Homo sapiens: one gene and its partners. The protein of the gene in region 3 interacts with the protein of the main gene of each other region in a pairwise test. Each region holds a gene or a part of one and is shown on either strand. Other genes may lie near its edges.

What was found. The genes of interacting proteins can lie anywhere in the genome.
Region 1: the proteins of ECSIT (region 3) and RNF32 interact in a two-hybrid assay, tested with the Homo sapiens proteins (one study listed by BioGRID and IntAct).
Region 2: the proteins of ECSIT (region 3) and BLMH interact in a two-hybrid assay, tested with the Homo sapiens proteins (one study listed by BioGRID and IntAct).
Region 4: the proteins of ECSIT (region 3) and AP1M2 interact in a two-hybrid assay, tested with the Homo sapiens proteins (one study listed by BioGRID and IntAct).

What each region holds. Positions count from the first base shown.
Region 1 is NC_000007.14:156,671,774-156,674,701, forward strand, and holds part of RNF32 (RING finger protein 32), read left to right. Parts: intron 1-2,928. UniProt on the Homo sapiens protein: May play a role in sperm formation.
Region 2 is NC_000017.11:30,271,445-30,274,944, forward strand, and holds part of BLMH (bleomycin hydrolase), read right to left. Parts: intron 2,754-3,500; coding exon 2,598-2,753; intron 1,456-2,597; coding exon 1,297-1,455; intron 1,185-1,296; coding exon 1,117-1,184; intron 1-1,116. UniProt on the Homo sapiens protein: The normal physiological role of BLM hydrolase is unknown, but it catalyzes the inactivation of the antitumor drug BLM (a glycopeptide) by hydrolyzing the carboxamide bond of its B-aminoalaninamide moiety thus protecting normal and malignant cells from BLM toxicity.
Region 3 is NC_000019.10:11,508,782-11,512,134, forward strand, and holds part of ECSIT (evolutionarily conserved signaling intermediate in Toll pathway, mitochondrial isoform 1 precursor), read right to left. Parts: intron 1-3,353.
Region 4 is NC_000019.10:10,577,313-10,580,812, reverse strand, and holds part of AP1M2 (AP-1 complex subunit mu-2), read left to right. Parts: intron 1-948; coding exon of another isoform or gene 949-954; coding exon 955-1,097; intron 1,098-1,849; coding exon 1,850-1,921; intron 1,922-3,456; coding exon 3,457-3,500. UniProt on the Homo sapiens protein: Subunit of clathrin-associated adaptor protein complex 1 that plays a role in protein sorting in the trans-Golgi network (TGN) and endosomes.

The sequences.
Region 1 (2,928 bases), on a different chromosome or scaffold from region 3:
ACTTGAAGAAACTTAAGTCGTGTAGAGTATGTTCCCTGACCACGGTGCAGCTGAGGCTAGAAATAAATTTTTTTTAAAAAAATAGAACTATCTCACGTTTGAAAATAAACGGTTCTAAATAACGTATTAATCGAAGACAAAATTATAATGGAAATGAGAAGAAATTTCAGTTGAATAGCAAAAGTACATATCAAAACTTGTGGAATGGAATATTTCATCAAAACTTGTGGAAAGGAATATTTGCGTCTGCCATGCTAGGTTTTCTTCTGTGGAATCAAACACCTGAGTGTGGAATTAGTTTGTGATTCTTATGTATATTAAAATATCCTAAGCATTTATTTGCTTTCTTGCTATATTACACCAGTTACCATTAAGACTGGAGCACTAAGTGTTAAGGGCCACCCTCCCTGAGATTTATTTGGTATATATGCAAAACTGACAAGTCTGTTTCTTTCAACAAGTGCCTACTATGGTCGGTGCGTGTACTGAGCTCTTGAGAGGGTTTAAAGGCAGGGTGTGACGACGACAGGTGCAAAACCCTTTAAAAACCCTGGATGCTATTACCAGCGTTAAGAACAGTCCTGGCCCCAGGACTAATAAAGGAGATAGGACCTGTATGCCACAGTGACTGAGGCAGAAGGAGGCAATAGGTGACATCAGTATTGGACCTCAGGGTCTTTGTCATCAATAGGGCCACTTAGGAGTCACCCAACACAGTTGTTCAGAGCATATGAGCTCTATTTCCATCTAAAGTGTTTGAAGGAAAATGTACTTTAAAAAGTCCTAATGATGCTGTCTTTGGAAGTTTATCTTGAGCTAAGTAACTCATTTATGTAACATCAGGACAGCTGGGATTGCTCCAGGCATCCTGTAGAGAGAGCGATACACTCACGTATGATAGAATATATGCACACACAGGTGACACTGTAACATAAATGCATATAGATGTACATACATATTTATATGTGGCCCGCACACTTACTCTGTTCCTCTCTCAAGTGGCTTCTGAAAGCGCACGCACAGCGATACCCATGCTTGGAGTTGGGAGGTGACACCTCCAGGAATGATAACTAATGCTGTGTTAAATAACTTTGCATATTTAAAAATGTGATCGGTAACTTCTATGACCGTGGTTCTTAAACCTGAATGGGCCTCAGAATCACCTGGAGGGCTGTAAAGCATATCGCAGGGCTCACCCCGCGGACTGTGGCCTCGGCAGGCCCGGGGCAAAGCCTGAAAAGCTCTGCTTTTCTCACAGATTCCCAGGAGCTGAGGCTGCGGGGTCTGGGCCCCACCTTGAGAATAAACACCCAGATCATATCGATCATTTCATTCAATTGATCAGTCATTCCAAATAGTACTTTTATGTCCAAAACTAATCTCAGAACATACCTCACAAGTTGAAACACTTTGCAAGGTCTGGACTAGAATGTGACCCTTTTTCTGAGGTATAATTTTGAAGGAAGAAAAGATCTTGCTTTTCAGGCATATGTGGAAAGTATCTCACACTTAAAAACAATTTACAGAAAACCTGAATTACAAAGCATCAATTGGAGGTAACTGTGTATATTTCCAAGTAATTTTTCCTTTTACAATGTATAGAGAACTCTTCTACTTTCAATAATTTATTTAGATATTATTAGATATTTGAAAGGCCAAGGAATAAAGAAAATTAAAATTAAAGCCTTAGGAAACGTTACCGATTCAAGACCCTAAATTAAGATACAGCTGCTTGGCAATTATAATTACATTCAGAGTGAAAGAGAATTTGACTCATAAATAGAAAAGCAGCTTCCACCAGGCTTCCAAGTACGGCTAATCCCAAAACACAGGTGCCTGGAAGATCCTCAGCCACCCCCTTCATTCAAACCCCAACCCTTGTGGACTGCCTGCTGTGTTCACAGAATGTTCTTTACTCAAAAGGACCTCTCATCCTTAAAGCCAATACTCATTCTTCTAACATCCCAGGGAGAAAGGCAGCTCATAGTCTCCACAGCACTCGACCCTGCGCTGTCTCACGATCTTTTTGCAGAAGGGAGAGAATTGGAAGAGAACTCCATGTCCTCAAAGGCACCTTCAGAAGTCTGGTGATTTAAATACACACTACGTTCTGCCAGGTTGCTCCACATTAATAAAAAAAAAAAAAAAAGAAAAAGTGAACGTGAGGACTCCAGTAGACTAGAATATTTGAAACCTGGACAGTCATGGACCATCCAAAATGCATTTTCCCCATCACATATCTAAATGTGTGAGATCTCCACGGGACTTGTTCATTTCATCCTTCTTTGTGCTTCAAGCCGGATTCCATGAAGCAGATGTAACTGCTGAATCGGCACTTCTCACTGCTGGACAAATAACCCCCCGAATTTCAGTGACTGAAAGCCAGAGCTTCGGTCTCATAGGACAGTTCAGGTGTCCTGGCTTGCAGGCAACATGCCAGCCTGTGGGGCTCGGGAACTGTCTCCCTCTGCCCTTTATCTGCCACCCCCCGGGCCTGGAGAACACCCAGAAGAGACATGAGCCACGTCCATCTGGAAGAACTACTTCACGTGGCCCCACCTGGGCATGGGGGAATGGGAAATGTCATCTCTGGGTGAGCCACAGCTCTGTACTTGAAAGGACAAGCAAGAGGGCAGGAAGTGTGGCTGACAGTCACCATTGGCACAACCTTTTACACACCTTATTCTCCTTTGCTTTACACTCTTCACATGTACTAAAAAGGAGCCGCTGGTGTGGCCCTGAATGAGCCACCTACCCGTGCCTCAGATGACACTGGTGGCCACTCTGTAATGACTCAGACCTTTCTAGTGTAGGATGGCTTGAGCCCGGGAGGCCGAGGCTGAGTGAGCATTGATGGCCCCAAGCACTCCAGTTTGGGTGACAGAGCGAGATGCTGTCTCCACCAAACCAAACAAAAATACCAAAAAA
Region 2 (3,500 bases), on a different chromosome or scaffold from region 3:
TTTTGGTTGTAAAAGGAATTCAGAAGAAACTGAAGGGGCTCAACAGCTCCAAATAAATAAGGCTCTAGCTGTAGCTCTTCAGAAAGAATATGGAACATGCAGAACTTAGTCTCTCAGTGGGAGTCCATTCTCTATGTGTCACAAGAGTATGCAGGAAAAAAAGGAGATGATTAAACATAAATTCTCCACATCAGAAGCTGACAAGTTTACATTGTCATTTAGGCAAGAAAACTTTAAAAAATAATGAAAAAAGCGTTTGAAGTAACTTCTTAGAAAACTGATCTCTTTTGAGCTGGTGGAACCAACCAGTTTCTGAATTCATTTAAATCACTGCTGATTAAAATTTAAATAAATAATGTCCAAAATATTGGGGAATATTTTTGCATAAGCACTACACTCACATTGTTAAATACAAAGAAACAAAAGGCAAAATACATGTGAGAGAGGTCCTTGCATGTTCTAGTTAGTGTGAGAGACACACTTGGGAGTTGCATGTACCTGTTTTCAAAAATTTTTTAAACCTCATTAATTCTTTTTTTTAGCAGATTTCTCTATCAAGATATTTACTCAACTTCCTACAAGTAACAACTATTTATAAGTAACCCTAAAATAGAGAATGGTGAACAGTCAAGGAATCCTATATGATTTAGTTTACAAATTAACCTTCATTGTCATAAATGACCAGGAGGAATGCTATAAAGTATGCATGCAAATTAGTCCCACTTGTCACAATGACAAAATACAAAGTTACCAAAGTAACATAGCAAACGGGGGCTCTGGAAAATCTTTCATTACACTCCCAAATGCACTGAACACATTTCCGCAATAGTCAATTATTTTTTTAAAGTGTCTTTCTCATAGAGGATGGCTTTTTAGGAACGCCCAACGATTTCCACTCAGATAGAAAGTGGGATTTTGATGTCCTGGGTTAGAGTGTTTAAGTATGTGGAGTTTCTGCTATGAGTCCTCAAACTCTAAAGGATGCAAAGAAAGAGACGCGCCCTTAGGTCAACCTTCATCTTTGGATGAACCTCGGCAGAGTCATTTTGTACCAACAGCACACTCCAACAGCAACAACCCACAAATGACTTTCCATTTTAAATTTCCTGCACTCACAGATTCATGTCACTGAGGCCCAGCTTGCTATTGAAGTGTTTTCCAACATCACAGCCAAACCACACAGCCTAGAAACAGAAGAAAGAGGAAGAAAGTCAACATAAACCCCATCTTCCTATTATACCAAAGAAGTAAAAGATGTTTTAACCCCAATGTGCAAAATACAGAAACAATACCAACCTCTCCATCTTTGATGGAGGCAGCAACCATCTTTTTCAGGAAGTCAATGGGCTGGTTGTTGTATAGAGTTTTTCTCCCTCCAACCATATTGCTTAAGTATTCCACTGTGTAAAGTTTGTTGTACTTGTGCTGGGGCCTAGGGTCATTCACTAAACAAATCTATCAAGATCAAGAACACATTAATTAGGGCACAAAACCAGGAATGTCAAGCAACACACAGCTCTCCTCTAGGTTCATGTTTCCATCAAGCTCATCATCTCTGCCTACAAGCTAAGTACTACAGCCACATTGTTAAGTAACAAAGAAACACAAGGTGGCAAAATACATGTGAGAGAGGTCCTTGCTTATTCTAATTCGCGTAAGAGACACAATTAGGAGGTGCATCTACCTGTTTTTCCTACTAGCAAGAACTGCTCCAAAAGCAATTTTTTTTTTTTTTTTTTTGAGACAGAATCTCACTCTGTCGCCCAGGCTGGAGTGCAATGGCGCCATCTCGGCTCACTGCAACCTCCGCCTCCCAGGTTCAAGTGATTCTCCTGCTTCAGCCTCCCAAGTAGCTGGGATTACAGATGTGCGCCACCATGCCTGGCTAATTTTTGTATTTTTAGTAGAGACGGAGTTTCACCATGTTGGCCAGGCTGGTCTCGAACTCCCGAACTCAGGTGATCCACTCACCACAGCCTCCCAGTGTGCTGGGATTACAGGCATGAGCCACCGCACCCGGCCCTCAAAACTCATTCTGAAAAATAACATGCACTGAGTAAGAAAAATTGGAGAGCTAATCACAAGGCCCCTGTTCTCAAGTTACAAGACAGGCATCTGCTTGGAAGAGGATCAAGAAGCCAATAAAAGGAAGAGGCTCTGATCCTCCTACTAGGCAGATGAGGAAGACCTAAAGGGAACAGGAAAAACTAAGATTACTCCCTTCAACAGGAGAGTTCCCCGAGGGGACCTCAGTGCAAAAGTGCTCTGAATCCACGATAAGAAATACCCAACACACTTTCATTGTTTTGCACTTGAGAATGATTCTGGTCCTATACAGGGGCGCATGTGGGAATTAAAATGACTGCTGGCTTACAGTTTAAAAAGTCTCTGAAGAGGAACATTGTGGAAAAGCTGATAAATCCTGGCACCACCAACTTCATTAGCTGCATAAAATACTTCAGAGGAAGTGGGGAAAAATGTTTGTTTGCTGTCTAGTTTGATACTCATACATGCTAACCAAGAATCTTATACAATTCCCTGTGGTTAACAGCCATTTGAAAGTAAACAGCCAGTGACTACCAGTGCCATTCACCAACCTTATCTTCCATATTGAAGAGTGGCTTGACATGTTCCCTGTAAAACTCCAAGGGTGTTATGGGGCCAATTTTCTGATAATTTTTATCTTTGTCTCGATATTCCCAGGTGAATGTCTCTGGTGGATTACCCAAACAGATGCACACCACTCGGAATATCTGGAAGAGAGGAGGAGGAAAGGCGAGCAATGGTTAGGGGGAAATGTTATTTTTTTCACCTCTTCATTTTCCTTAAGCTTAGGAAACACAAGAAGTTAGTGGCTAAATTCAAGCTAAAAATTTCACAAGAAATCTAATACTGCGTCAAAAACTGGAAAGCCGATGTCTGAGATTTGTTATCAGTCAACTTATGAGTTCTCAAATAAACACTGTGAACAATGCGATTCTGAAATGTTAACATTTAGTGCTTAGTACTTGTCCTGAAAATTTAAACTTCCTTAGCCAAGAATCTGTCTACCATTGATACCCAGCAAGATCTGAGTTGCTGCTCTGATTATTTTTCAAGTAACCAAAAAATGACAAATTTTATAAATGGATTTCCTTCCCTTTATACATTGATGTTTTCCTTATTACAACAGGGGTCTCTAGTCATAGGAAAGTAACTAATTTTTCAGCTGGAGTTGGATGACAATGCCTGTTAAAAGTATTACTAGAAGAGGAGGGCCAGGTGCAGTGGTTCATGCCTGTAATCCCAGTACTTTGGGAAGCTGAGGTTGGAGGATCCCTTGAACCCAGGAGTTCAAGACCAGCCTGGATAACATAGTGAAACCTCATCTTAAAAAAGAAAAAAATTAGCTGGACGTGGTGGCTCATGCCTGTAGTCCCAGGTGCTCAAGAGGCTGAGGAGGGAGGATCGCTTGAGCCCAGGAGGCAGAAGCTTCAGTGAGCCATGATCGTGCCACTACA
Region 3 (3,353 bases):
GGCCTCAGGTGATCCGCCTGCCTTGGCCTCCCAAAGCACTAGGATTATGGGCATGAACCTAACTTTGGGTGGTTGTAAAATATGTAGCACAGTCCCTGGCAAATAATAAGTGCTCAGTGCTTGTGAATTAAAAAAAGAAAAATAACTTCACATATACAGAATATCCCAGGAAGGAGACACTAGAAGCAAATGATAGCTTTCACCTCTGTGGAGGACAGGGTGGGAAGGAATACCTTTTTTATCTTTTAAAATTTTATACCTTGAACATAATTCAAAAACACTAGACAATTTTTTTTTTTTTTTTTTGGGACAGAGTTTCGCTCTTGTTGCCTAGGCTGGAGTGCAATGGGGCTTGATCTCAGCTCACCGCAACCTCCACCTCCTGGGTTCAAGTGATTCTGCTGCCTCAGCCTCCCGAGTAGCTGGGATTACAGGCATGCACCACCACGTCTGGCTAATGTCTGTATTTTTAGTAGAGACAGGGTTTCTCCATGTTGGTCAGGCTGGTCTCAAACTCCCAACCTCAGGTGATCCACCTGCCTCAGCCTCCCAAAGCATTGGGATTACAGGCATAAGCCACTGCGCCCCGCTGACAAAGTTTTTTTTTTTTTAACAAAATGCACTTGCTTTTGAAACAAAACAGTGGACAGCTATTAGAACATATATCATTCATCCTTTCAAGTTAAAAAAAATTGAGATGAGCAGGCCGGGCGCAGTGGCTCATGCCTGTAATCCCAGCACTTTGGGAGGCCGAGGGTGGTGGATCACTTGAGGCCAGGAGTTCAAGACCAGCCTGGCCAACATGGTGAAACCCCGTCTCTACTAGAAATACAAAAATTAGCCAGGCGTGGTGGCACACGCCTGTAGTCCCTGCTACATGGGAGGCTGAGGCACAAGAATTGCTTGAACCTGGGAGGAGGAGGTTGTAGTGAGCCGAGATTGTGCCACTGCACTCCAGCATGGGCGACAGAGCAAGGCTCTGTCTCAAAAAAACAACAAAAAAATTTGAGATGGATCAGTGACTTCTAGTTGTATTAAATGAAATTTGTAAAAGGCAAGGTACATGTATATAATGCCCTGCTACTAAAGAAACTTTTTTTTTTTTGAGATGGAGTTTCGCTCTTGTTGCCCAGGCTGGAGTGCAATGGCGCGATCTCGGCTCACTGCAACCTCCACCTCCTGGGTTCAAGTGATTCTCCTGCCTCACCCTCGCAAGTAGCTAGGATTACAGGCATGCACCACCATGCCTGGATAATTCTTTTTGTATTTTTAGTAGAGACGAGGTTTCTCCATGTTGGTCAGGCTGGTCTCGAACTCCCAACCTCTGGTGATCTGCCTGCCTCGGCCTTCCAAAGTGCTGGGATTACAGGCGTAAGCCACCATGCCTGGCTAAAGAACTTCTTTTTTTTAAACAGACAGGATCTTGCTCTGTCACCCAGTCTGGTGTGCAGTGGTATGATCACGGCTCACTACAGACTTGACTTCCTGAGTTCAAGCCACCCTCCTGCCTCAGCCTCCTGAGTAGCTGGGGCTACAGGTGTGCACCACCACTCCCAGCTAATTTTCGTATTTTTTTGGTAGAGATGGGGTCTTGCCATGTTGCCCAGGCTGGTCTCGAACTCCTGGGCTCAAGCAATCCATCTGCCTCAGCCTCCCAAAGTGCTGGGATTACAGGCATGAGCCACTGTGCCTGGCTGTATTTTACTCCATAAGACGGGGGAGAAGGATATTTAAATACAAAGGATACAGATGCCAAAAAAAAAAAGAGAGAGAGAGAGAGAGATCTGCTTGCAAATGTATAGAACCTCTCTGGAAGGAGACATGGAAATAGTCACCTCTGGGGAGGGAGACGGGCGGCGTCAGGGGCAGCGCACGGGGCCTGGGTAGAAGCAGAGGACTCGTCACTGTGTGCTTTTACATGCTGTTTGGCTTTTTAGTGCATTGCTTTGCAAAATGAAGAAATGAACTAAAAACAACCCTCCCCCCCACATTCTGCTGCTGGTCTCAAGCCATCTCTCACCTGGACCCACGACCCTGGTCCCCTAGCCCCTCTCCCCATCCAACAGCATCCACACGGCTGCCAGGAGACACGTTTCCAATTGCAGATTCTTCCAGAAACATGATTCCAACCCGATTCCTTCTTCTTAAATCTCTGCCCCCCCACCCCCGGCATAGCTCTCCCCACCAACCAAGAGGTTTGAGATCAAGCTCTTTAATCAGGTGCCCCCACTCACTGCACCGCATTTCCTGGTACACACTGCTCCCTCTGCCCAGCGTCCTCTGCTCTCCTTACCTCCCCCAGGAAGCCCCACCTGCCCACTCGGCTCCCACAGCACCCCGGGCTTCTCCATCTCAGAACCACTGGCTCTTAAGGAAACTGTTATCTGTCCAGGACCACATGACAAGTGCTGTGAGGGGCTCTCTTTGGATCCCTTGTGTGATCTGGCATGAGTGGGGGCTCCCAGGACACTGAGTTGAGGGTGTTACTCCACTCAGTCATTCAACAAACCACTGCCAAGTGTCAGCTTTGCACCAAATCCTGTGCTCAGCCTTGGGAGACAGGAGGGAGACTGAGTCATGGTGAATGAGGAACCAAGCCAAGCACGGTGAAGGGGTGGTGCCTTGGCCAGGGAGGTCAGGAAGGGCATCCTGATTAGGAACAGTGGAGCTGAGACCGGAATAACATGAAGTCCATGGGGAACAGTGTTCCTGGCAGAAGGAACAGAGAACGCAAAGCCCTGTGGTGAGAATTGGCACAGAAAATAAGGAAGATGCCTAGAATGTAGCAAGTGTTGGGAGAAGGATGGGAGGGTGCTATGGTCTGAATGTTTATGGCCCCCTGAAATTCATATGTTGCAATCTATCTACAATGCAATAGGATTAAGAGGTCAGGCCTTTGAGAGGAGAGGCACTTAGATCATAAGGGCTCTGCCTTCATGAATGAGATTAGTCCCCTTATAAAAAAGGTCTTGGCCGGGCACAGTGGCTCACGCGTGTAATCCCAGCACTTTGGGAGGCCGAGGTGGGCAGATCATGAGGTCAGGAGATCAAGACCAGCCTGGCCAACATGGTAAAACCCCGTTTCTACTAAAAATACAAAAATTAGCTGGGCCTGGTGGTGCATGCCTGTAATCCCAGCTACTTGGGAGGCTGAGGCAGGAGAATCGCTTGAACCCGGGAGTCAGAGTTGCAGTGAGCTGAGATGGCGCCACAGCACTCCAGCCTGGCGACAGAGCGAGACTCCATCTCAAAAAAAAAACAAACAAACAAAGGTCTGAGGGGGCCAGGCATGGTGGCTCATGCTTGCAATCCCAGTACTTTGGGAGGCTAAGGTGGGTGGATCGCTTGAGCTC
Region 4 (3,500 bases), 930 kb from region 3:
TTTAAATTTTTTATAGAGACGGGGGTCTCGCTATGTTGCCCAGTCTGGTCTAAACTCCTGGCCTCAAGCAATCCTCCCAAAGTGCTAGGATTACAGGTGTGAACTACTGTGCCTGGCTCAGCATCTTATTTATTGACTGATTGATTGATTTAAGATGGAGTCTCGCTCCGTCACCCGGCTGGAGTGCAGTGGCATGATCTCAGCTCACTGCAACCTCCGCCTCCTGGGTTCAAGCTATTCTCCTGCCTCAGCCTCCTGAGTAGCTGGGACTATAGGCACCAGCCACCACGCCCAGCTAATTTTTTTTGTATTTTTAGTGGAGACGAGGTTTCACCATGTTGGCCAGGATGGTCTCGATCTCTTTACCTTGTGATCCGCCCATCTCAGCCTCCCATAGTTCGGGGATTACAGGCGTGAGCCACCACGCCAGGCCTCAGCATCATATTTAAAAGCCAGACACTGCCGGGTATACAGTGGCTCACGCCTGTAATCCCAGCACTTTGGGAGGCCGAGGAGGGAGGATCACCTGAGGTTGGGAATTTGAGACCAGCCTGACCAACATGGAGAAACCCCGTCTCTACTAAAAATACAAAATTAGCCGGGGGTGGTAGCACATTCCTGTAATCCTATCTACTCAGTAGGCTGAGGCAGGAGAATGGCTTGAACTCGGGAGGTGGAGGTTGCGGTGAGCCAAGACGTGCCATCGCACTCCAGTCTGGGCAACAAGAGTGAAACTCTGTCTCAAAAAAAAAAAAAAAAAAAAAAAAACCAAGCCAGATCCTGTACAGATACTAGGTTCAGATTCCAGCTCTACTGTGCCAGTTTTTGCTCATTCTCTCTGGGCCCCAGTTTCCCCATATGTGAAATAGGTGACAGTGGTCGGCAGGAAAGGTGGGGATAGGGATCCTTTCCTGGTTCCCAGGGTCACTCTCCACTCTCCACTCTGAGTTTCAGGCAGCAAGAACAAATCAGTAGAGCTGGAGGATGTAAAATTCCACCAGTGCGTGCGGCTCTCTCGCTTTGACAACGACCGCACCATCTCCTTCATCCCGCCTGATGGTGACTTTGAGCTCATGTCATACCGCCTCAGCACCCAGGTGAGGCAGGGTCCAGCCCCATCTGGGTGGAGTAGGTTGGGGTAGGCTGAAGAGCGACCCTGGGCCCAGCGCAGTGGCTCACGCCTGTAATCCCAACAATTTTGGAGGCTGAGTCGGGTGGATCACTTGAGGACAGGAGTTCGAGACCAGCCTGGCCAACAGGGTGAAGCCCTGTCTCTACTAAAAATACAAAAATTAGCTGGGCATGGTGGCACATGCTGTAATCCCAGGTACTGGGGAGGCTGAGGCAGGAGAATTGCTTTATTTGTTTTTTTTAATTTTTATTATTATTATTTTTTTGAGACGGAGTCTGGCTCTTTCACCCAGGCTGGAGTGCAGTAGCGCTATCTCGGCTCACTGCAAGCTCCGCCTCCCAGGTTCACGCCATTCTCCTGCCTCAGCGTCCCGAGTAGCTGGGACTATAGGCGCATGCCACCGTGTCCAGCTAATTTTTTGCATTTTTAGTAGAGACGGGGTTTCGCCGTGTTAGCCAGGATGGTCTCGATCTCCTGACCTCGTGATCCGCCCACCTTGGCCTCCCAAAGTGCTGGGATTACAGGCGTGAGCCACCGCTCCCGGCCGAGAATTGCTTTAGTCCAGGAGGTGCAGGTTGCAGTGAGCCAAGATCACGCCATGGCACTTCAGCCTGGGCGAAGAAGCGAGACTCTGTCTCAAAGAAAGAAAAAAAAAAAAAAAAAAAGAAGAGAGTCAACATGGAGTCTCCAAGAACTCTCCCCTTCTTCTTCCCACAGGTCAAGCCACTGATCTGGATTGAGTCTGTCATTGAGAAGTTCTCCCACAGCCGCGTGGAGATCATGGTCAAGGTGGGCCTTGGGGGAATGCTTATTAACAATGCATGATCTCGGGTGGGTGCGGTGGCTCACACCTGTAATCCCAGCACTTTGGGAGGCCGGGGTGGTTAGATCACTTAAGCCCAGGACTTTGAGACCAGCCTGGGCAACAGGGCGAAACCCTGTTTCTACAAAAAATACAAAAATTAGCCTGGTAAAGTGGTGAGTGCCTGTAGTGCCAGTTAGTTGGGAGGCTGAGGTGGGAGGATTGCTTGAGTCCAGGAGGAGGAGGTTGTAGTGAGACAAGGACTCTAGCCTGGATGACAGAGCTAGACCCCATCTCCAAAAAGAAAAAAGAAAAAAAAAATCTGTTATCAAATAAAATAATAACTCTCCTGTGATGGACTGAAGGGTTTTTTTGTTTGTTTGTTCGTTTGTTTTTTGAGAAAGAGTCTCCCTCTGTCACTCGGGCTGGAGTGCAGTGGTGTGATCTCAGCTCACCGCAACCTCTGCCTCCTGGGTTCATGCCATTCTCCTACCTCAGCCTCCCGAGCAGCTGGGATTACAGGCTCCTGCCGCCACGCCTGCCTCCATCTCCCCAAGTGCTGGGATTACAGGTGTGGCCCACCACCCCCGGCTTTTTTCAACAAGCCTTTCATATGCCCTCTCAGCCCAGGCCTCCACAATCCTAAGGTGGGGACCCTTATCCTGTCCATTTTACAGATGAGGAAACTGAGGCACACAGAAGTTAAGGCATTTGCCTGCAGATACACAGCCAACAACTGTTAGAACTCAGGCCCACACCCATGAGGCTCGAGAAGCCCTGTTCTTGGTGCCTTCCATGTGGACAGCACCATACACCTTTGCCTGATTCAAAATGACCCCTTCAGGCTGGGTGCAGTGGTTCATACCTGTAATCCCAGCATGTTGGGAGGCGGAGGCAGTAGGATCACCTGAGGTCAGGCGTTCCAGACCAGCCTGACCAACATGGAGAAACGCTGTCTCTACTAAAAATACAAAATTAGCAGGGCGTGGTGGCACATGCCTGTAATCCCACCTACTTGGGAGGCTGAGGCAGGAGAATTGCTTGAACCCAGGAGGCGGAGGTTGCCGTGAGCGGAGATTGTGCCACTGCACTCCAGCCTGGGTGACAGAGAGAGACTCCGTCTAAAAAAAAAAAAAAAAAAAAAGGCCAAGCATGGTGGCTCACGCCTGTAATCCCAGCACTTTGAGAGGCCGGGGTGGGCGGATCACGAGGTCAGGAGATCGAGAACATCCTGGCTAACATGCTGAAACCCCGTCTCTACTAAGAATACAAAAAAAATTAGCTGGGCGTGCTGGCGGGTGCCTGTAGTCCCAGCTGCTCAGGAGGCTGAGGTAGGAGAATGGCGTGAACCTGGGAGGCGGAGCTTACAGCCAGCCGAGATCGCGCCACTGCACTCCAGCCTGGGCGACAGAGTGAGACTCCGTCTCAAAAAAAAAAAAAAAAAAAAAAAAAAAAGGGCTTGGTAAATATTTGAAGGATGAGCAAGCGAATTCTTCGTGCCCCATGCTCGCTCCCCTGACAGGCCAAGGGGCAGTTTAAGAAACAGTCAGTGGCCAACGGTGTGGA